Linked DNA regions of Homo sapiens: regions 1 and 3 are each linked to region 2. Evidence: fine-mapped expression QTL. A gene starts in region 2. Each other region holds a variant in brackets. All regions are shown on one strand. Distances are between the middles of the regions. Region 1 overlaps FGF12 (fibroblast growth factor 12). Region 2 holds the start of FGF12 (fibroblast growth factor 12). Region 3 overlaps LOC105374277 (a long non-coding RNA gene).

What was found.
Region 1: its variant is fine-mapped to the expression of FGF12 in tibial nerve (GTEx, PIP above 0.99).
Region 3: its variant is fine-mapped to the expression of FGF12 in lung (TOPMed, PIP above 0.99).

What each region holds. Positions count from the first base shown.
Region 1 is chr3:192,398,150-192,406,338 of GRCh38, forward strand. All of the region lies in intron 2 of FGF12 (fibroblast growth factor 12), which reads right to left. Among named protein-coding and RNA genes, the nearest start is that of FGF12-AS2, 110 kb to the right of the region's middle. The variant G/A (reference allele first, on the strand shown) is at 4,328.
Region 2 is chr3:192,723,674-192,731,862 of GRCh38, forward strand. It overlaps FGF12 (fibroblast growth factor 12), which reads right to left and starts at 3,868. Exons shown (of 6, transcript NM_004113.6): 1 at 3,811-3,868; 2 at 3,508-3,650. The coding sequence starts at 3,520. It overlaps LOC107986056 (a long non-coding RNA gene), which reads right to left. Exons shown (of 3, transcript XR_001740579.2): 3 at 4,050-4,881. It also overlaps the pseudogene RNU1-20P.
Region 3 is chr3:192,002,134-192,010,322 of GRCh38, forward strand. It overlaps LOC105374277 (a long non-coding RNA gene), which reads right to left. Exons shown (of 4, transcript XR_924827.2): 3 at 6,389-6,584; 4 at 2,931-3,104. Among named protein-coding and RNA genes, the nearest start is that of FGF12-AS1, 230 kb to the right of the region's middle. The variant G/C (reference allele first, on the strand shown) is at 4,172.

The DNA.
Region 1 (8,189 bases), 330 kb before region 2:
GAGAAAGACTGACATTTTAGACAGATTTCTTTATTAGTGCCTTGCAAGTAATTAAACCATGGGATGCAGTTAGGAACATCCAAAACAGCACACTAAGAAAATAGTTTTGTCCTTCAAGTAAGAAGCAGGGAAAAGATCTGTGTTTCATGTTCCCAGTCACAAATGTTTTTCCTGGGGTGAGGGGAGCTACAGTTAATAGCTTTTCAGGCTAAAGAGGCCCTTATATTTTCTTTTTTCTTTTTTTTTTTTTTTCTGAGACAGAGTCTTGCTTTGTCACCCAGACTGGAGTGCAGTGGTGTGATCTTGGCACACTGCAACCTACACCTCCCAGGTAGGTGATTTTCCTGCCCCAGCCTCCCAAGTAGCTGGGATTACAGGCATGCACCACCACGCCCGACTAATTTTGTATTTTAGTAAAGACAGGGTTTCACCATGTTGACCAGACTGGTCTCGAACTCCTAACCTCAAGTGATCTGCCCGCCTCAGCTTCCCAAAGTGCTGGAATTACAGGTGTGAGCCAGCTCTTATATATTCTTATATATAGCTCCCTTGTTTTTCAAAGACAGAAACTGAGGTCCATTTCCAGGACTGGCAGAGTAGAAAGAAAAGTAGATTAGGAAAAACAAACCTGAGTCTAAATCCAGAATCTAACCAGTCCTGTGAAACTGAGAAGCCCCAGGCTTTGCAGGACCTCAGCATCCTTAGGTGGGAAGGAGAGATGCTACCTTCAGAATCCTTCTTCCTCTGAGGCTTGCTCAGTGAGTCAGGATGTCATTTCCTCATTGATTTAACAGCAACTGAAGAACTGCAGTGACACAGGCAGTATACTAAGTTCTGAGAAATCTAGTGCTGACCAGGTCCTGTGCTTAGGAACTGAAGTTTTCATCAAGAAGACGAGGCATGCAAGCATTCCATATGATGATGCAGCTCAGTTTTGGGATATCATTAAACACAGGAAAGATTCAAATATAAGCAAAAAAAAAAAAAGTGGTGCCTTGGACAGAACGTTTATGTGTCCCTCCCCCTGCCCAATGTTGAAATCCTAACCTCCAAGATGATGTTAGGAAGTGGAAGACTTTGAGAAGTGATTAGGTCATGAAGCCTCTCTCCTCATGAATGGGATTAGTGGTCTTACAAAAGAGACCCCAGGGAGCTCCCTTGCCCCTTCTGCCATTTGAAAAAGCAGCAAAGACTGCCATCTATGACTTAGGAAGCAGGCCCTCACAGACACCGAATCTTCCGGCACCTTGATCTTGGGAATGCCAGCCTCTCGAACTGTGAAAAATACATTTCTGTTGTTTAAGCCACCTGTGCATGGTATTTTATCATAACAACCAGAATGGGCTGAGACAGAAGAGATCATCATTATAAATTATATTAGTGTATAAAATTTCTAGGCATAATGGATGTGTTCCTAAAGACATTAACAAAATCATTAATTTTGTTTAAGGGCCACAATTTATGAAATAAAGGAATTGGAACAGGTTGGGGACTCTCAATATATGATGCATATTAGCATAGACTTTCTAGGTGTTTGGCATTAGTACGTTTAAAAACTCTCAGGTGATTTCATTTTGCAGCTAGGGCTGAGAACCAGTGGCTTATATAAGCTCTAAGTGCTAACATTTTGTGATTCAGCATACAGATCCTATTTGACCCATGTCATTCTTTACTTCTAGGGAACCAAGTTTGGTCTTAGGCCTTAGGGCCCTCTCTACTGACTCCTGAAAAGTAACGAAGAAAAGACTCTATAGAGTACAGTCATCCCTCCCTATGTTCAGGGTGAGGAGTGGTGGTTACAAGACCGCCACCCTCAGGATACCCAACCGGAGGATCCTCAAGTCCTTTACATAAAATGGCATAGTATTTGCATAGCATGGTTGTACTATGGTTTTCTTCTTGAATATTTCCATCCATGGTTGGTGAATCTTCAAATGCAAAACCATCAGTCCAAGTTTCAATTATGAGGCATTAACATAAGTGTGGTTACAAGCATGGAGTCTGGGAGGCCTATAAATACTACAAACGAATCAAATAACTAACAATAGGCAGAAAAATAGAACTTTATAAAATTTGTGTTTGTAAAATCACTTGACGATTCGAAGGCCAATGAGTGTTTCTTGAGAGTTCAAGAATAAAGTAAACAGCCTTATATATATGGGTATTGTAAAACCATTAAACAATAAATAAAACCCAATCTTCCACCTTCACATTCTTTTCTTTTTTTTTTTTTTTTTGAGACTGAGTCTCGCCATGTGGCCCGGGCTGGAGTGCAATGACACGACCTTGGCTCATTGCAACTTCCGCCTCCCGGGTTCAAATGATTCTCCTGCCTCAGCCTCCTAAGTAGCTGGGATTACAGGCACCCACCACCACACTGAGCTAATTTTTGTATTTTTAATAGAGATGGGGTTTCACCATGTTGGCCAGGCTGGTCTCGAACTCCTGACGTTGTGATCCACCTGCCTCAGCCTTCCAAAATGCTGGGATTATGGGTGTGAACCACCGCACCCCGTCCCCACCTTCACATTCTATAGTGTTTTGTAGTTGGGTAATTACATTATTTGACCTCTATCAACCCTGCTCCTTCACCAGCATTCCTCCATCTCCACAAACATGCAATTCACTATGGAATAGTTCAGCCAGGGATTATCCAGGCACCTTCGACTCTCCACTCATAGTCTACCTCTTATGAAGTTCTGCTCATTCTACCTTTACCCACTCTTTTTATATCCATGGCCATCAACTTCATTTCAACATCATCTATAGCCTAGACCAGTGGTTCTCAAACTTTTTGTTTTCAGGATCCTTTACACTCCTAGAAAGTATTGAGTACCCCGAAGAGCTTTGTGCTTATGTAGTTTATATCTCTCAATATTTACTGTATTTAGAAGTTACAATGAAATTTTTCAAATAATTATTTGTTTATTAAAACAATAATAAGCCCCACTGTGTTAACATAAATAGCATGATTTAATAAAACTTATCTTTATTTTCCAAAACAAACAAAAAGGAATTAATGAAAAGACTGGTTTGTAAATCTTTTTAATGTCTAGCTTAATAGAAGTCAGCTTGTTCTCAAGTCTGCTTCTGCATTCAATCTCTTTTGATATCTTATTGTGGATGAAGTACATGAGGATAACCTGGCCTCACAAAGAAACGTGGTTGAAAAGGGAGGAAATTTTTAGTACCTTTTACAGATGATTGTGGATATATCACACAGTCTCTGGAAAATTCCACTGGACACTTGTGACAGAATGAGTGAAAATGGCAAATAACTAGTGGTATTAGGAAATATTTTTTATGAAAATCGTTTTGACCTTCTGGATCCACTAAAAGATTTTCAGGAAGCTTCTAGGGCCTCTGTACTGTATGGTACTTTGAGAACTGCTGGTCCAGACTGATGCCCTAGCCTCCTTACTGTTCCCTTGCTTCTACTCTGCTTCCATTGCTATCCATTCTCTTCTCCAAAGGCAAAGTGCCCAATTAAAAATACAAGTCGCATGATATCACCCCATACTGCTGATCTTTCTTTGGACCCTAGATTAAAATACAAAATTCATCTTAGGCTTCTCAAGGCCCTGCGGTTCTTGCCAAACTTTCCAACATCATCTGTACCCCTCTCCCCTTGTTCTTATTGCTTCAGCTATACTTCAATTTCTTCAGAAGCACCGAGCTCCCTCTCACATCAATCTTCATGCAAGTTGTTCTCTTCTGCCTTGAAGGTTCTTCCATTCCTGTCTGCCTGTTTCATCTTTTGGAGCTCAGCTTAAATGATTTTTCCTCAAAGAAGCATTTCTTGACCAAAAGCTAGAGGTAATATCTTCATTTTACAAATCAGCAAACTGAGGTGCAAAGATATTAAGAAACTTGCCTAATGTTCTTACAAATAATAAGACCATAATTTGAATTCACATCCCACTCCGAAGTCCAGGTACTTAATCATTCTGCTATGCTATCACTTAAGTTAAACAAACAAACAAAAAGATTAAATCTTACAGAGCTCTCTTTAACTTGGTGTTAACCTCTTTACTATCCAAAACATCTGAAGCAATCATTTATGTTTATGGTTAAGAGAGTCTGGCCCTCTGGGCCCAAGTCTCCCAGTGGGTCCTTAGGTATCCCATGTGGCACCCCTTCATATCATCAAGGCTCCCGGCATTCAGGCAGGAACATCCGAGCCAGGAGCCTAAGCCCAGCACATAACAACATAGCCATGGGACTGCTTCTTCAGTCCTGCCCTGAAGATCTCCATCAGCTTTCCACTTCTCTCCTCCACTCTGGGGACTCTAGACCACACACACAGCAAAACAAACCATGTAATCAC[G/A]TTCCACATTTCTTGAACTTTTCATCAGATTCCCTCCAACAATAGTTTCCCAGCTTCCTAACCCTCAGTGTGGTGGGAGATAAAAGCAGATTATCTGCAGTGTGGAACTGGGAGCCATGTGACACTTACTCATCTTCTGATTCCATGAATCTGAACAAGTCTCATTGCCACTTGAGGCTTAGTTTTCTTTTTTCTAAGATGGGGCTATCTCAGCAGACTGCTATAAAAAGTAAAAGAAGCAAAAATTATAAAGAAATTCTATAAATCCTGAAGTCAAGTTATTATTATTAAAATTTATTATTATAGATGATTAATTTATAGGCATTTTGCATCTAAGCCTTCTCCCACTCACAGATGCTTAGGAGGTAGTCTTGGAATCACAGCCCTTTAGATGTGGTGCACCTTTCTTTAGAAAATAGGAAAAGTTCTGTAATTCCATGAGTAAGCCAGAAGATAAAATTGAAAATATAGCATATCAAGCGTGTCCTCTATGTCTAACAAGGCTGTTTTGTGGAATCATCATACAATCTATAATAATTCTATACATCAAAAGCAAATATACATGATGATCATGCATTCAAAGAAGAGACAAGAAAAAATTGATCACTATTAACATATTTCCAAAGCAAATCTACAAAATTTCCAGAGCAAATTTATTCTCTCACCAAGAATAAAAGCAATGAGTTTCCATATGAGTAAGCCCAGGACTTTTTAAAATACAATTTTATGAGACAAAGCTTACATTTCTAAAGATCTTCCAAAATATTCCTATTGCTTCCTCAAATGCAGAGACTGCCTCACTTCCTATAAATTGTTTTTCTACTTCTGTTCAAGAAAAACAAATTCATTAAAACTTTAAAGACTTAATCTCGAGTTACGTCTTGATGAGATCTCTGTGGGATGAAAGAAATCAAGAGATCACAATAACTGCTATTTTAAAATGTTCCTACAATGGAAACATAATTTGTTGTTGAGAATGCACTGCTGTAGAGAGAACCGAATTTTAAAAACATGTTCAAAATATCAGTTTAAACCCTAAGGTGGGTTTCTGAAAAGTTAGGGGTCTTACTGTTTTTTTTTTTTTAACAAAAATCAAGCCAAATATCATTTAATTAGGCTGACTTTGTAGTTCAGATATGAGTCATACTTTCAAAAGAGAAAATGTAATCAAAGTACTTCCTATAAATGTAAAATATCACCTGTCATATAAATCTATTCTTGACCCATATATTGGCCAAAACTATTTCAATTTATAAAAATCTAACTCATATTCCATAAATCACATGATTAAACATTATTTCACCTTTACTGTCAACTTTCTTCTTGAAGTTTCTATTTCCTACGATATTTTCTTCCTCTATGCAAAAGGATACGTTTTATAATAAAAATGTTGAATGAGTATACTGTTAAACACTGTGCATCTACCGAAACAATGTAAAAGAATACTGAAATATTTTGAATAACCATAATTTTTATAACAGCAGAAACAGGGACTCAGAAAGATAAGGTAAATGAAAATCAACAAAATCGGGTAAATTACAATTACTACTTTGATTTATTTTACCATGTAGTGTAATTCTACTCCATTACTTTTTAAAGGGATCGGCGTATGAAATCAAATCTTTAAATTGTAAAAAAATTCTGAAGATCTTTAGGTTTTAAGATAGATTTTTCCTGATTGATTATTCTTTTCATGTTCTGGTTTGAGGTAAGAAACTAAGTTATATAGAAATATAATAAAAACACCCACATCACTTAAAATACCTAGATTTAGGCTTAATCAATTGCTTTGCTCTTTCCAGAGAGGGTCTCATTTGAAAAATGAAAGAGTAATATTGATGACCTCCAAGGTTCGTGGCCACTCAGACATTCAGAGATTCTACAAACACCTTTCCCTCCTTGATTATGAGTGTTACCCTTTGTCTGTAATAACTTCCGAGTCAAAACATACATCATTTTGTAGTCAATCATTTGTACTATTGTTTCTACTCAAAATAAAGCTAAAGGTTGGACATGAATAAGCGTGTAATTCATACGGATGTACTAATAGTCTAGATACAACAAATTAAGTGGCATCAACATTTAGGCAAATATTCTAGTGTGCCTGACTAATACAGCCTTTTCACACATAAATAATGACTCAAATAATGACTATAAGTACACTCTTTTCTCATTAGAAAGTGCACAAACAGAAATGTTCTAAAGGCTTTTTCATGGTTCAATGACCTCATCCAACTTTCCAGTTCAGGGTCTCCAATATTTCATTTTCAAAGATCTACAGTCCACACAGTGTCTAAGGGGCCCATTAACCCTAGCTGCCTATAGGTCTTCAATAATGCTATACGGTGGTCATTGCTGAAGTCCAATGGCCTCCTTAGCCTATGCCTTCTTCTACAAGTTACCTCTTCTACTCTACCCTATCTCTGTTCTAATTATAAAATAACGATCACAATGATAATAATAATACCAATGGTTAAAACTTTGACAGAAGACATCCAGTTATTTACACTAGTTGATGTTACTTTCTGCTGTGTTGCAAGGAAGGTAGGAAAAAAAGTCAACTGAATCTAGTTCTAGTCTCAATTTTGACAAAACCTAGTTGTGTAACCTTAGATAAATTACAAACTTGCAATGGCTCCAGGATTTCTCATCTACAAAGACAGAGATTTTGCTGCACAAAAAGGATCCAATGTGCACCCTGGCCCTGAAACTGTGTGATGTGAGGCCATACCTAGTCATTTCCCATGTTTTCATTCTGTGTTACTGTCATTTTAAATCTGAGCCCTTTGCCATGATAATTTCAGGATCCCCACTGTATTTATACAGCTTCAATACTACACATATCAGAACTTGGTTAGCTAAGAAAAAAGAGAAGGAGAGATACTCAATGTGTCAGCCCTGAAATCAGAAATACAACCGTGGCCTTTCCCATCAAACACTTGCCTTAGATTCACTTCCTAAGCCTCACTCCCCTAGAAAGTCTGGTCAATGGAACATGTGTCTCAGTGACAGAAATTCAGAGTGGAAATTCTTTATCAGGACAAATTATTCCACTTCACCACTTTACCATTTGTGAGTTACTTTGTTAGTTCACAATGATATGGCTTAGGAAGGCTAGTGGTTTCAAGAATCAGTCAAATATTAAGTGAATACAACATCAAAGTGATTATAAAACAGATTCGAATAGTTTTTCTTTTTGGTGTTTAGCAACTTCCTCCCAATCCAACTAAAGATTCTTCTCTGGAACTGATATGTGGAAGGTGCTATCTCTCTATAAATAGACTTATTCCATGCTATGTGAATCATGGCTGCTGACAGCAAATCAACAGATTAATTATTTGGCTTTGTTAGTGAAGATAATAGCACACTATCATCTTCCCAAAATGTTTTTACACACACCACATGCCCATTCTTCTAAGCTAAGCTTCAGAACAAACTGAAATGGTATACAAATACACGCAGGTTGCCCTTGCACTGGGAATGTCTTAATAGGTCCTGCCATCTCTCTGCCAGATTGTTATTTTGACACTTTAGCTAAAGGAAGTCACCAGTCAGGATCCTCTCTGATAAGATGAACACTGTGTAGAACAAAAAGGGAGGCAAATTAAACGAACACTGAAGAAAACAATAAACTCAGAAACTGCCTCAAATCTCTGTTTTCTAATGAGATGCTAAGGAAGAGCCCACAGGAAGCAGCAAATACAGTCCTTCCTTCCCATGCAAAATGAAGCCATGCAAAAGTAACCCATTGATCATCTCCAAGTCAACTCCAGAGATCAGGATCAGTTTATGTTACCCGTTCACATATATCCACCTATCATTCTTATTATCTTGTTTTTTAGAAGAGGCTGACTAGGATCAA
Region 2 (8,189 bases):
CCCAGATCCCACCCCAGAACTAATTAAACTCACATTATTAGGGGTATGGCCTAAGCATCTTTACATTTGAAAAGCTCTACAGGTGTTTCTATAGGTAGTATGCCAGCTTGAGGCTGGAAATCTACCTAGACAAAGAAAAATGTGATATAGGTGGGGGTCAGTGGGAGGTGAGAGTGTGTGTGTGTGTGTGAGAGAGAGAGAGAGAGGAGAGGAGAGGAGAGGAGAGGAAAGGGGAGGGGAGAATAGGGGAGAAAGGAGGGAAGAGGAAAGGAGGGGAGGGGAGGAGAGGAAGGAGGGGAGGGGAGGAGAGGAAGGGAGGGAGGGGGAAGGAAGAAAGGGAGGAAGGGAAAAGGGAGGGAGAAAGGGAGGAAGGGAAAGGGAGGGAAGAGGGAAAGAAGGAAGGAAGAAAGGAAGGAAGGAAGAAAGGAAGGAAGGAAAGAAGGAAGGAAGGAAGGAGGAAAGGAAGGAAAAAGCCTGTTTCCTCACTCCAAATCATGCTTCTCAAACATTAATGTGCATACAAATTGCCTAGGTACTTTGTCAAAATTCTAATTCTGACTCAATAGACCTGGAGTAAATATGGAGATTCTGCAGTTCTAAAAAATTTGTCTGCAAACCACATTTTGACTATCAAGAGTCTAAATCAGTGGTTTCCAAACACTGCTGTACATAGGGACCTCTAAAGGAAACATATATGCTTTTTTCTTCCACCCCAATATTCTAATTTCATTGGTATGCGGTGCCATCTCAGGATGAGTATGTTCAGAAAGTATGTCAGGTGATTCTAGTGTGCAGCAAACTTTGTGAACCACTCCTCTAAATACTAAACATTTTAACTCATTTAAGAATCTCAAGCCCTTAAGATACGCAAGGCACAAATTCCGTCAGAGCTGCTCGGACTGCGTACCAACCCAAATCTTTGAGACAATGTTAAGTACATGGTGCACAAAAATCGCTGAAATTAGATCATGAATTGAACCTCAGGTCAACTGATGTATTTTCCTCTCTTCTTTACCCTGTATGACAGGGAGTGATGCAAAGTTGTAAATAAGGAAGCAAAAATAAATTGATCTTATTTGTAAATAGCTGAAGTTCAACTTTCTGGATGCTGGACAAATGCTCTAAGAAAGGCTGTCAAATGCTAGAGGTAATGTGAAAGTTGTCAAGTGTTGGCGATGGGATTCAAGATTAAACAGGCCATTAGATCTGGGTATGGGATAGAGAACTCTTGAACCCTCAACTGAGTCACGCAATATGACTCTATCTTTAAAGAGTTTCTACTAGAAAAGTATTATATATACATACATTTGAGAATGTCTTCCTAGAATTAGATTTGAATCTGTTGGGGGAAGAAGTTTGTACACGGCAGCATAAAATGTGAAAGATGCACCAATTACAGTATTGCACAAATACACATTTCTCTTAATACACTCTTTTTGGCTGGAATAAAAATTTCAAGTTAGCTACCATCGTTAGCTGTGCCATTTGCACCAACTTAGAAAGTGAGGCCAATGTATAAGTAATTAGCCATTTTTAATCTGATTGCCAAGCAGCTAACACAGCTTCATTAAGAAAGTCCAGGAACTAACATGCATAAAGACTTTCATCATGTTTTTTTTTTTTTTCAGAGGCAATTATGGGACCTCTGCAAAATGACCACAATGTTGGCCTACAGCAAAAGTCTTCGTTGCCTTTGGATCAGTGCTGTGATTCACTATATCATTGCTGTCTGGATTGACATAGAACTTCTGAACTGATTCTTTTCGGATGTATTTCTGAGATTCTTTCTCCTTTCTGAATTCAAAAGACTGAAAGAACAGCTAGAACTCTACTGTTAGCAATATGATCATTAAACCACCTGGAATGCTAAGTGACACGTAGCATGTTTTATGGGCAACGAAGGAAAATAAAAGATTACTGCCGAGAGATATAGCCTCTTTTTATGATTGAACAGGAATTAGTATACACATTGGAGGCAAAACTGTTACCAAGAACCTTTGTCAAATAACTAAATTTAGTGACCAAATACCAGGTGTCATCTAAGCAAGAAAAACTGTTTCATAGTAAAATGATATTCTTTTTCTGTTGTTAACCTTATGTCCCAGAAATACTTAGTCAGCTAGAATATTACAAACCTTTATATGTTAAGGACTGCCTTTTTATTTTAAAATGGAGTATAATAGAGTTAATAATATATGCCTCAAATATACTTATAGACATGGATTCTCTCATATGTGTACATCATTGTCAGACGTGGAGATGCCCATCAATGTATCATAAGAATAATCTGCCTGAACTGAAAATTGCCTGCTAGTCTTAATCCATGTTGATTCAGCTCTTTTTATACTATAAATGCTTGCCTAGGTTCAAATACTTTAAATCTACCAATTAAATACTTAAAACACTTTATTGAACATAGAACTGCTATCATTCAACACTCCAGTTTCATTAATCAGCCCAGAAATAGGTAACTCACCACCATTCCCTGATCCTAAGTACATTACCACAGTGACTGACATTCCTGGTTTAAAAATAAAATCTTGTTTCAAATATAGCTTCCCGAGTTCTGGGTAATGAATATAGTTTCATAAAAGTTGACATCATTTCTTCTGATTTCGCCAGAATTAAATACATCCAGTATGCCTCCTGGATATCTGACCACCATATCACTCAAGGCTCTCACAACCTGGTGGGCGTTTTAAGGAGAAGGAGAAACAGACCTGCATAGATGGGGTTAAATCCAAAAGATATCTAATCTTGTGGTTAGAATAGTCGTTGTGTTTATGTGTGTTCAATATGCCATTCAGAAGTTGATTTTTACAGTTCATTTATCAGTTGGCATGCATACATTATGCAGATTTGCTTATGAGGAGAACATTAATATGTACATGTCCAGAACTAGTAAATGCATTATGCTTGGAAGCCAAGCAGTACTCCCATACACTGTTCTTCTTAGAGGTCAGTTCTAACGCATGCTGTTCCAAATAGACCCAATTTCTCTGCTGATATATATTCAAAATGCAGTAGGATGTGGTCATACACACCCAGAAATACCATCTTCATGAGGTGGGGGTGGTGAAATTCAAACATTTTTTTTTTAGCAATGCATTATTGGATATCAGGTACAAACGTGCCTGTCAGCAATTCTAAAGCAAATGAAATAGATTTATTTGAGTCCATCCATTATACAGAAAAGATATTGCTTTACTAACACATACCTCCTCCTCCTCCTCCATTTTGGGGGGACTCTCCCCACCTCCCCCCAAAAAACTCATCACAGTTCACTACGCAACTGATGGAGTATTAAACACTGTCTTCCAAGCTGTGGGAGTTAAAAAGAAGTCGCCTTCCTGCCACACTTCCCCAGTGCTGCAATGGACATAGCATCTCCTCCTCTATCGACCTAGTATGATGCTCGCTCCCCAAGCACTGCAGTCCCCTCGCCGAGGATTGCCTTGGCCACACGCACATGCAGCGGGAAGTCCCCCGATAGGGACAACCACATACCTTTGCTCTCCATTTCGGTCCCTTTCGAGTGCTGGGAAGTTCAATGGAAGTTGGCCGGAAGATGTGGGCCCGCTTCAGATTCCCAAATCTGGGAAGCCAATCTGATGATTTCGCCCGTACTTCCTTCCTTCCCCTCAGGCTTCCTGAAAGATGGGATTTCTTAAACCTTGAAGCTGCAATCAGCCACCAAAGGACACTTAGGAGCAGCAGCAGATTGCCTCTACAGGGGATACGTTGCGACGCGCATCTGATACTGAAATGCATGCACAGTGCCCGCTCAGATTTTTTTTTTTTTTTTTTTACCTGGGTCTGGAAGCTGCAGGCAGGAGCTGTCCTCCGAGCGTGGTGCTGCAGGTGTAGTGACAGATCATCCCACTTTGCTCTCTGGATGCACAGCAGATTTGCATGGGCGCTGGCACGCATGCGCAGGGCGTCCCCCCTCCCCTTTTCACCGCCTCCCGCTCCCCCGCCCCCTTCGCCTCCCTCCCCAATACGGTCCTCAGTTATCCCAGCTGAGGAGCTGTAGCATTCGGTCACAGGGAAGCGCTGCTAAAAATAAACGCCGGACCGGATTTTCCTCTGCAAACTAGAAAATGGATTGGACTAGTACTGCGTGCATCAGGACGAATTACTGAAGTCTTAGAGGAGGCTAGTGTCTCCAGGCAGGGTATGGTTTTATTCAGAAGGCAGGGAGGAGAGATTTACGAATCGTTTTTAATGTTCACAATTTGGGTTTCTCTTTCTACTTGCTGCAGTAACTTTCCAGCTGTCTGCTTCCCTCTCCTCTCCCCACTGACTTCACATTGCTTGTTATATTCCTGTATGTGTTTTGTTTTGTTTTTCGAGAGTGGGGTGAGAGTAGTTATGGAGCTGTCAAAGGTTAATATTCTCTCGCTTCTTTGTTACTCAAACTCAGTGTTTTCCTGCCTGCCTCCACCTCAAAACTGTTCCATGAGCAGGCTCCAAGGCTTCTAAAGTTCTTCAAAAAAGCCACTGAGGATATTTTGAGGTGCTCTTTTTAGCTTTTTTCCAACAACCTGCAAGAAGTCCCCAAAGGTGGGGAGGCGTCTTATTGATAATAAGTACTTCCAAAAGCAATACCTAATCATTTTTGTGAAGTTGCAGGGATAGAGTATTTTTCTTGTACAGAGCTCTAGAGGAAGATGCAAAACCACAAATCTCTTGAAGTGCTACTTTCATATCAAAATATTTCTAAAGCCCACACTGTATTTCGTTTATATGCAAAATGTTTAACAGGAAAAATTGTGTTGTATTTACTACCTTTTTTTTTCAATAGTCCAGATTTTCCTGAGGTGATCATCTCTCCTTGAGAATAATAATCTTATTCTCCAGAAGTCCAGAAAACTCTGTTATCTGAAATGGTTAAGGAAGGAGATGTGCAGATTAGTCACATACTCTACTTCATGAAAGATCCTTCCACAGTAGGCTTCTAGTCCCAATTTTCAAAACATTGAAATATAATAAAATGTACTCCCAACAAGAAACCTGGAGTTGTATCTAATTTAATCTTTTTCTGGTGATTCAGAGGGCATCCTTTGATTTTTCCAATGCCTGAGGGCCATGATTACAAATATTAACCACGGATGGTTCAGCCAGACATGGACATTATTAGTGGAGGACTCCCACTAATGAACTGCTGTGGGTCAGCAACGCCTGGATCCATTCAGCATTTAGGAGTATCGGATTGCAGAGGCCACAACCTAGGGCCTACTAATTTTTAGGTTCTCCAACTGTATGCCAAAGTACGTGTTTGGAAGAATCATAAAATTCAGGATTTCTTTTCAATGTTGAATAGGCTTAGGAAGTAAGCTTAGGGTGGGAGTAGTGTTGCTCCTTAAGAACAATAGTCTATTTCATTGAGATAAATAATTTCTGCTCTTAATACTGCACCCCGTTACATGTTCTTTCCTTCTCAAAGGTTTTAGAATAGGAGATATCTTTAGAATGCATCTCTATGTACTCTTCATATTTATTCTTTTACAGACGGAGAAACTAAAGGCAGGGGAGGAGTGGCACTTGAAAAGAGTCACATGGTGAACCAGATCTGGGCTCAGAACCTAAGTGTCATACCTCAAAGGCAGAGGCAAGCCATCTATAGTCCAGAATGATTTTTCATATAACTGCCTTCCCATTATCTACAGTGAATAAGAACAGGGAGAACCTTCTAGTTCATAAATTATCATTATTTTTATTCATAATTTTAAGAACCCAGCTGCTTTATTAAATAGAAAGCAAATCAAATTTAATGCAAAATTTGTGTTCTGACATTCAAGATCTTTCCATTCTTCTCCAAGCTTAACTCCTAGACAACAATTGCTATTATCCTAAACAAACCTCAAGATTGTTTTTAAACCAGGGGAAAGTGGGATCACAGACCCCCACTACCACAAATTATGCAGTCTAGTTTCCCACGTATGGGGAAATTGCAGGGGTCAGCACATCTGGAATGCAATTGATAAGCCTTGACTGGGAAAACAACCTTCTTGCTCATGATAGCTCCTCTGTCAAGATTTTTCTTACCTTTGCTTACATAGTCATTGCTGGAATATCTTGACCTCATCAAACCACTACCTACCACAAGTATCTACAAATTCAAATCTTATATTTTCCTCTAGATCCATCTCCTTCTTACAGTCTTCCCTGATACTCTTAGTCTGAAAATATTCTCTACCAAGAACACTGATGATCCGCTCACTAATGATTCCAAAACTGATGAGTTACTTCTCTTCCATCACTATTTTTTATTCTGTACCAGAATGATTTATGTATATATCTTGTTCCTTTTTCCCACTCATATTTTTAAATGGCCTCCTTTTACTTCAGTGTAGTCTAGAGTGTCCTGAACATAGGAAACAATAAAAATGTTTCATGAATTAATAACATTTAGCATACATGTTTTTGTGTACTTTACTATGTGACATTAACTACAATCACCATGATAACAAAATGATGATAATATTGACCTAACATTGCTCAGAGCTTACTATGTGCCAGGTACTATAAGGATTCTAAATGTTTAATGAATATTATCTTTATTCATTAAATAAGCTATATGAACATGCAAACGGCCAATAAATATATGAAAAAAAGTTCAACATCACTAATCATCAGAGAAATGCATATTAAAACCACAAAGAGATATCATTTCATCCCAGTTAGGATGGCTATTATCAAAAGACAAAGAAAATAAAGCACATGCTAGTGAGGAAGCAGACAGAAGGGAATTCTTATGCACTGTTGGTGGGAATGTAAACTAGTACAGTCACTATGGAGAACAGTATTGAGTTTTCTAAAAAAAAAAAAAAAAAAAAACTAGAATTACCATATGATCCAGCAATCCCACTACTGGGAATTTATCCAAAAGAAAGGGAATCAGTATATCAAAGAGATATCTGCACCCATATGTTTATTGCAGCACTATTACAATAGTCAAAATATGGAATCAACTTAGGTGTCCAACAACAAATGAATGCATAAAGAAAGTGGGGTACATATACACAATAAAATATTATTCAGCCATAAAAAAGAATGGAATCCTGTCATTTGCAGCAACATAGATGAAACTGAAGGACATTATGCTTGATGAAATAAGCCTAAGAAACAGAAAGTTAAACACCACATGTTCTCACTCATACGTGTAAGATAAAAGAAAAAGTTGATTTCATAGAAGTAAAAAGTAGAACAAAGGATAGGAGGAGCTGGGAAGGGTAGGGGGAAGGAGGGAGAGATTTGTAAAAGGATACAATATTACAGCTAGGTGGGAGGAATAAGTTCTAGTGTTCTATACGACTGTAATATGGTTATAGTTAATAATAATATTTTACATACTTTAAAATCAGCAGAAGGAGGATATTGAAGTTTCCCAACACAAAGAAATGATCAATATTTGAGATGATGAATATAATAATTACCCTGATCTGATCACTTACATTATATGTATTGAAATGTCACTGTTTACCCCATGAATGTGTACAATTATTATTTGTCAATTTAAGAAATAAAATAAAATATTATGAGGTTAGTACTATTATGATCTCTGTTTTAAAGATAAGCAACCTGGAGCACAGAGAGGTTAAAGTATGAATAAAACATGATCTCTGCCGTACAGAAGCATAAAGTCTATTGAAGATGATAGAAACATAAATGATTTTAAAAGCTATCGTAAGGTATAAGATAGGTTGTCACAGGTGGAGTAGGAGGTGCAGAAGAGTTGGCAGTCAGCCAGCCTGAGGGTTTTAAGAAAGTTTCCTGGAGGAGACATATATAGAGCTAGTTCTTGAAGTGTGAGCTTCACAGGGTTGGGGTATGAGTGTGGGGCAGGGACCATGTGAGTGTGCAAAAGTACTTTTGGACATAAGAAGTTATTATCATTTTCCAGGTTTCTCTGCCAGATGTGAATCTCCAATGTCAAAGAGGAAAGTGGACGGAGGCAGAGAAATGCTTAGTACTGTTCCGGGATCAGAGCTACAAAACTCCAGAGTATCTGGGAGAGATCATATCTCTTTATCTCACCTAAGTTTTCTATCATACATTTGAATAGAGAGACAGTAGAGCATAGTGAAAAAAATAGATTCTGGAACCAGACAGACGTGGGCTCAAATACAATTTGCTTCTTATTATTTATGGTACCATCTTGGGCAATTAATCCATTTGGGTCCTAT
Region 3 (8,189 bases), 720 kb before region 2:
TTAGCCAGGATAGTCTCAATCTCCTGACCTCGTGATCCGCCCACCTCGGCATCCCAAAGTGCTGGGATTACAGGCGTGAGCCACTACACCCAGCCCTCATCAATTTTTTTAACTATTATTCTATAGAAGACCATGTGAGGAAAGTAAAGGCATTTTCTATAGACTGGAAAAAATATTTGGAAATCACGTATCCAATGAAAAAACTAGTAGCTAGAATATATAAAGCATTCATATAATTCAACATCTTGTAATAAATTGGGCAAAAGACATGAACAGACATTGCATCAAATAGTATAAACAGATGTCAAATAAGCACATGAAAGGATGTTTGACATTATTAGTCATTAGGGAAAGGTAGAGTAAAATCACGTTGAGATCACTGCACACCTATCAGAATGACTAAAACCAAAAATAGTGAAAACACCAAATTTTGGTAAGGGTGTAGATAAATCAGGTCACTCAGAAAACAATTTGGTGTTTTCTTAAAAAAAGACAGAAAAAGAAAAATACAAACAAAATAAACAGCCAACTATCATATAACAACTCTATTTGGGAACAGTTATTCCAGAGAAACAAAAACATGACATTCTATAAAAACGTATATTAGAAGTTTCACAGGAGCTTTATTTGGAATAGCCAAAAAATGGAAGCAACACAAATGTCCTTCAATGCATTAATGTTTAAACAAACTACAGTACATCCAGTGATAGGGTCAGATGTAGACATCTACCAGTTAATTGGCAATGGCTAAAGTTTTCACCCAATGGGCAGTCACATGGAAGGAATGAAATTGGATAATTATTGACAAAGAAGACTGATAAAGAGATATGAGCCAAAGGTGAGAATATTTATATCTTATGTGAATACTCACCAAAAAGGACTCCTCTGTAGTAGAGTTACAAAAATGTGAAAATTGTATTGTAGTCGTAGTCTCTTTCTTCAAGTACTTTAGTATTTGCTCAAAGGGCTCCTGAATATAGTCAGGAAGGTAAGTTAACTATAAGCTCAACAACATGGATTTCACCTCGCTATGGTGAGGACAATATGGACTGTGTCTAATCTGCCAGAATCATTGAAAAATACTAAAATCCACAAGGGGGGCAATACCTAACCATAAAGTTCTGAGCATAATCAGCTGCAAACATCAACTGATGAAAATGCTATTTTGCTACAGCATTCCCTTGGCATCGCTCCTGGACAGCTGTTCCCAAAGGCATATTTTTCCTAGATATTTAGGATTTAAGCCTGGTCCCCTTGGTCTATACAGGTTTTCTGGTGCTGCCAATAGACTTCAAATAAATCACTTCCTACTAAAACTATTGGAGTGAATTTTGTTGTTTGCAACTAAGAATATTCAATGATTGTCTCAAATGGCAAACTATCATACATAATGGCAATTTGTGGAAGGAGTGTTCTTTTTTTTTTTTTTGAGCAGTGGAATTTTCTATACATTTTATATTCAACTTTGGTGGGACTTAAATCCAAGTTTTTAAAGCCAACCAAAACACAGGTGAGAAGCCAAAGGCCACTCTCCTCTCAAGCAAAAATAATTTGAGAGGCAGTGTTCACTTTCCTCATGAATGCCAAATATATTCTTTTCAGTTTTCTTAATAATCTCTTACAATCACTCCTTCTATTTATCTTCTGGTTTAAAAATTGTTTGCCCCCTGCACACAGGCTGCTATAAAATCACATTTTTTTTTTTAACTCAAGTGGGTTTTATCAGAAATCAATTCATTGGGATACCACATGTGCTTTGAATCTAAGCTTTTTATTTTATTTTCATTTGTATAATGCTATAACTGAAATAACTTTAAAGATCACTAATTCGACATCTTCAAATTATAGAAAAACTGGAACCTAGACAGGGAATGTGAATTGTCTATGGTCAGTAATGTTTGGTAAAGCTTGGCTCAGGACCCCACTTCTTTGTCTTTTAACTCAGACTGCTCAATGTTTCTCTTAAATCAGAGGTTCCCTGCCATAATAATCATTGCTCTATCATTACCCAAATATGTATCTCATATTGCAATTCATATTGTTCCCAAGGTATAGAACCTAAGATTAATAATAATGCCAAGTTGAATACTATATTTGAAAAGTTTTGGTCCGGTCACAGTGGCTCACGCCTGTAATCCCAGCACTTTGGGAGGCCAAGGTGGGTGGATCAGGAGGTCAAGAGTTCGAGACCAGCGTGGCCAACATGGTGAAACCCATCTCTACTAAGAATACAAAAATTAGCCGAGTGTGGTAGCACATGTCTGTAATCCCAGCTACTCGGGAGGCTGAGGCAGGGGAATTGCTTGAACCCAGGAGGCAGAGTTTGCAGTGAGCTGAGATCACGCCACTGCACTCCAGCCTGGGCAACAGAGCAAGACTCCATCTCAAGAAAAAAAAGAAAAGTGTCACATCAAATTATTGTTAAACTATAACTTCCTCAAAAATATTTACCTTCTTTGGGCTCACGTTGTGATTATTCTGGATTCTGAATTTCCCTCACCCTTTAAATTTCCCTCTTCAAGTACCATTTTCTTTGCATTCTCATTGCTATAATTAAATGTATTGTGTTAATATGAAGAAGAAGCTTTTTCCACCTAATTGGTCTCTTTAATATGTCTTTTAAACATATGTAATTTATTCCTGGGAATGAACTTGGTTATCCTTTGCAGACAAACATCAAGGTCTACCATGCATAGATAATTCCAGAGATATATTAATTATCTCACTTAAGTAGCAGGCTGAGATGCATCAATATTCCTTTCCTCAGAAAAGTGGTGCTTATGCATTGGTAATTGAGTGATATGACAAATATATGTAAATATTAATCAATAATAGAGGTGATAAATCTAACCATATTTAAATGACCTTTGAATAACAACAAAAAAAGTCTTTTATCTAGAGATTCTTTGGCCTGTACTCAGTTCCACTGTATCTTCTTTGCCCCCAGAATGCTTTGCTTTTATACACAAAACAGTCTTCAAATGAAAATATACTGCAAATCCCAGTATTAAAAAAGAGATAAAAGTAGAGTTGCTCTGATGGACTGAAGTGTCTGCCTGACCGGAATCCTCACCTCAGTTCACACACAGGACTCTGATAGTGACCTAGGAGGAAAACAGATAACTCTTAAAAGCACAATTAAAGGTACAAGGGATTTGAGACTGAAAGGTATCTTTGAGATAATCCTGTTTATAACTCTTCAAAAATGAATGCCATTTTGCTCGAATTAGAGTAAATGTAGGAGGACAAGGAAAAACAAGTTCCTGATCATCAGTGAGAGTAGCAGCCCCTCCTGCTACCCTCCCTGACATTGAAGACATTTCTGATGACATTTTCCAGACTAATTCAGTTATATTAATGACACTGCGTGAAACATTTGGATACTTGTTGTAGCATATTTGATATTTATATTCAAACATTAATAATTTGGGACTTCACCTAATGATTCCTCTAATAAATATTTACTGAGAAGTAGAGTGAGACTTTAATTAGAGAAACTCACAAAGTGAGACTTAATGGGATTTTAATTCCAACTGTATTGCTGCTAAGTACTCGTTGATTTTTGGATGGACCCTAAACACCAGAAAGAAATGTTCCCTGGAACTTTTAAAGATAAATACTTTCGTAGTCATATAAATGGCCATTCTATTATGTTTTAAAAGTGTTACACAATTGATAATTTTGAATGAAATTTTCTGGTCACTTTAGTGAAGCAAGTCCTTTTTGACCATTTTGGTAACCATCAATTTCAACATCATGGCGAACTGACTGGGATTCCTGTTGCCACAGTTACATGAAAGCCCGAAGTGTCTATTGCTTCTTCACAGTTCATCTTCCCTTCTCCCTCAGGTGGAGCTACTTCACCTTCCACTTCAGGATTAGTTTTGTGCAAATGTAGTTAACAATCCAGTCTTTAGTCCAAAGCAACATTAAAGTTTGGCTCAGTGTTAAAGGGACTCATAATCAAGCCATCTTGACTGGTTTATATGTTCCAACTCTAGTAAAAGAGCCACTTCCTGTTTTGAGAACACCAACTCAGATAACTGGACTCTTTATTTGTTTTCCTGGGCGTGGGTCCATGTGATAAACTGTCTCTTTCCACAATGCCACCTTAGATGTTTGGATCCTATGTCTAGCTGCAATGTCATGCCAAGTACTGGGACTGTTTCCT[G/C]TATAAAAGGGTTAGATAACACTGTGAAGGGAAATCCTCAGCATCAAATTCTTACAAAGAAATAATGGAAATGATGTTGTGCTGAGAGAGAACTTCAACAAAGGTCCAGTCTTCTACTCAACATAGTAATTCAACAAGTATTTACTGAACATTTATTATATGTCAGGCATTGTTCTAAGCACTGGAGATACAGAAGCAACTAAGTCTCTAGCCTTATAAAGCACACTAAGTCTCTATCCTCATAAAACTAACATTTAAATGAGATAGCCAAACAATAAATAAATATAAAAATATACAGAATAATGTCAGGTAATAAGATGAGCTATAAAGGAAAATAATGTAGGATAAAGGGATAGAAAATGATAGCTGCTCTTTTGATAGAAAAAATATTTCTGAGGAGATGGCATTTGAACAGAAATTTGATTTATCTAAATTTATCCCTCTTTTTAACTAAGATTTAGAAAAATGGAGCCTAATAAGAGACAAACATGCCAAACGGTGCCCCAAGAACTGCTCAAGATGGATCTAAATGATCTATTCCCCCGAGGTGTAAAAAATGTGTGCTAAGAAGAGAATTTAAGGCTTCTCTTAAATTTGGTTTCAATAATATAGGAGGAATTTTCTAGATCTAACATACCCTCCTTGGTAGGCCAGAAATACCTTTTGAGATGGTTTTCATACTTTCTGCAAGAGTTAATGGTTTGGTCCCATAAATGTGAAATTAGAGAACCTGGACTCTGACCCACAAGAGAACCAAGACAAATAGAATAAATCTCCTTGTCTTAGACACAATTAAAGGAGACCTCCACCTCCAATCATTGTCTCTATCAGTAGCAGCCTCAACACCCTTACTGCTGGCTCCCCGGGATTTTAGATCCCAGTTGCAGTGCCTCTGAAGTTTTAATAATAATAAAAAAAAGCTGTTCTCTGTATCTTTCAGGAGTAACTTCAGCTTGATACCTGGAATTATTATGAACCATAGTCTTTTAAATATGAGAGAAAAGAGGAGATATTGGCCAAAGAATACCAAATTTCAGTTATAAGACAAATAGTCTGTAGATCTAATGTACAGCATGATGACTATAGTTAATATAGCAATGTGTCCTATATTCAAAATTTGCTAAGAAAGTAGATCTCAAGTATTCTCACCCCTCTGTCCCCCAACCCACCACACAAAAGATGAATAGGCCAGTTGTTGGATATGTTGGCACAATTGTGGTAGTCGTTCCACAATGTATACATTTAGCAAAAATATCACGTCGTACACCTAAAATACATACAATTTATATGTGTTAATCATACCTCAACAAAGCTAAGAACAAAGTATTAATAAATAAATAATGTCCTATTTGTCCTCCCTTTCTTCTGTTTCCTGCACTGCAGCTATAGTGATCATTCCAAAAGGAATATTTGATCCAGTCTCAACAAGATGTTAAATGACAAAATTCCTTATGTCTTGAATTTTGGATGGGAATGAATCACTATAATCACATTCTAAAGAAAGTTTCTAGATACACTCATGCGGGACTTGTTAAAACACAGCAAAGAGAATGAAACAACCATTAGAAACTCAAATATCTATTTTAATAGGAGACTAACATGTTTTAATATTAACATATTCTTTAATATTAATCCTACCCTTCCTTAAGGGAAAGATAAGAGAGGGGTATCATCAACCTCTCAAGCCAAGTGAGGAAAATGCTAAGGACAATAAAACATCTGGGAGATTGAGTTGCTTGCAAAAATTAGGGACTGCCATTTTACTTTGCTCCTGAATGTTTACTAAATTACTAAGATATACATGTAGATTACCAGACTAAAGAAATATGGGCCAGGCGCGGTGGCTCACGCCTGTAATCCCAGCACTTTGGGAGGCTGAGGCGGGAGGATCACGAGGTCAGGAAATCAAGACCATCCTGGCTAACACGGGGAAACCCCGTCTTTACCAAAAATACAAAAAATTGGCCGGGCGTGGTGGCGGGCGCCTGTAGTCCCAGCTACTCAGGAGGCTGAGGCAGGAGAATGGCGTGAACCCGGGAGGCGGAGCTTGCAGTGAGCCAAGATCGAGCCACTGCACTGCAGCCTGGGTGACAGAGTGAGACACCGTCACAAAAAAAAAAAAAAAAAAAAGAAATATGAAGACATTTGGGGATAGCTTGAGATACGGCCCCTTAGGGAGAGGTAGGGTGTATGTGTGCGTTATTTAGAAACTCATACCTGCATATTAATGGGAGGATTCTGGAGGTTAGAGGCCAGCTGGAGCAGTACTGGAGACTAGGGCAAGGAAGGAGGGTACAGCGTGACAAGCCTGCCTTCCTGCTACTTGGTGTGGTAAGCATGATGAATTTTCTATTGGCCAAATGGATGCCATGGAAAGTAGCTCTTTTAAAGAGAATTCATCTCAGTAGGATGCCTGGTGAAATAAAGAGATATCAAGGGTGAATGTGGTTACATATCCACATAGCAGCTGGAGGAGGAAGCATCTGCAAACGTTCTGTCAGAAGGTATATTTCCTAGTTGTGTGGAAACTGTCATTTGGCAGTTTCTGTGAGGCCTCCAAAGAACCCAAAAATGCAACTCATGAGAGAGTTTTTGCAAATATCAAGGGCATCAAACCAAAGAGTACAAATAAAATAGTAAAAATTACCTAAAGCCCACCCGCCTTTCTTCTGGCTTCCACTCCCCTGCCCCAGCCTCAGAAGAGTCCACAGCTTGAGAGATTATGATAATTGAAAGAGCCAGAAGAAGAGTGAGAAAACAGACTATGACTTCTTTCCCACTGCAGATCCCTGAGCCATGAGCGAGGCATCCATTTAAAAGAGGAGTGAGGCATGGAAATGAACAAGAGGCTGGCATTTTGTGGTTGGACTCGACTATATCTTTAATACATTAAAATAAGTCATAGTTATAAAAATAAGACTTCTATAACTGAATATTACCAAAAAGAAACTTCCACTTTTAGCCATGATGATGAAACAGGGACTGGATTTACACTTACAATGGAAACTATGAACAAAACCAGGTAAAATATATGAAACAACAGATTTTAGATGTTGGATATCAGGCAGCCCAAGACAGTGATTCCTGATTGAGGAGGGAAAAAATAAAGTAATTTGTGTGATAGCCCCCAGCTTACAATCTATAGAGAGTATACAGGTCATTGTGCAGGAAGAAGAACCTGAAAAAAGCCCAGCCATCATGCTAAATTAAGACAGACTGTAGGGTACAGCGATGTCATCGTGTGTAACTTTTTCTAGAGGGAGTACTGGAGGAGAAAGAGCTAAGCAAAGAGAGAGTTCTAGATCCCTATGGAGAGGCAGGGAAAGGAATCTAAAAAAGCCCAGTGGTGTCCCTAATTTAAGAGACCTGAGGGTCCAGGGATGTCAAGTTGTTCAGCTTTCTCTAGACAGAATACTGGAGAAGACAGAGCTGAGCAAACAGAGAGTTCTAGATAGCTAGCTGTAGAGAGGTCCCTCAAGTCTTCAGCTGAGTACTGGTAACCCAAGTGTGTGAGGAAAAGCAAATCTTCATGAGCAGGTGAATGGATAAATAAAGTGTTGTACACTTAATGAAATACTGCTGGTCTATAAAAAAGGGATGAACTATTGATACATGCAACTGCATGGATGGATCTCAAAATAATTATACTAAGTGAACGAAGACAAACAGAAAGAGCACATCGTGTTTTATTCCACTTACACACAATTATGGAATATGAATACCAATTTACAGTCACAGAAAGCAGATCAGGGCTGGTGAGATTAGGGTAGGGTAAGGGGGTGAGAAAAGGAGGATGACACAGAGGATGAGGAAACTTTAAGGAGTGATGCATATGTGCATTGTCTTGGTTGTGATGATGGATTCATGGGCATGTACATATGTCAAAATGTATTAAATTCCACAATTTAAATTTGTATATAGTTTTGAATTGAGTTATAACTCAATAAAGCAGTTTTAAAATGGAGGGTGACAGATCTTACTAGAATGTTTTCAAAGAAGAGAGAAAGGAAAGTAGACA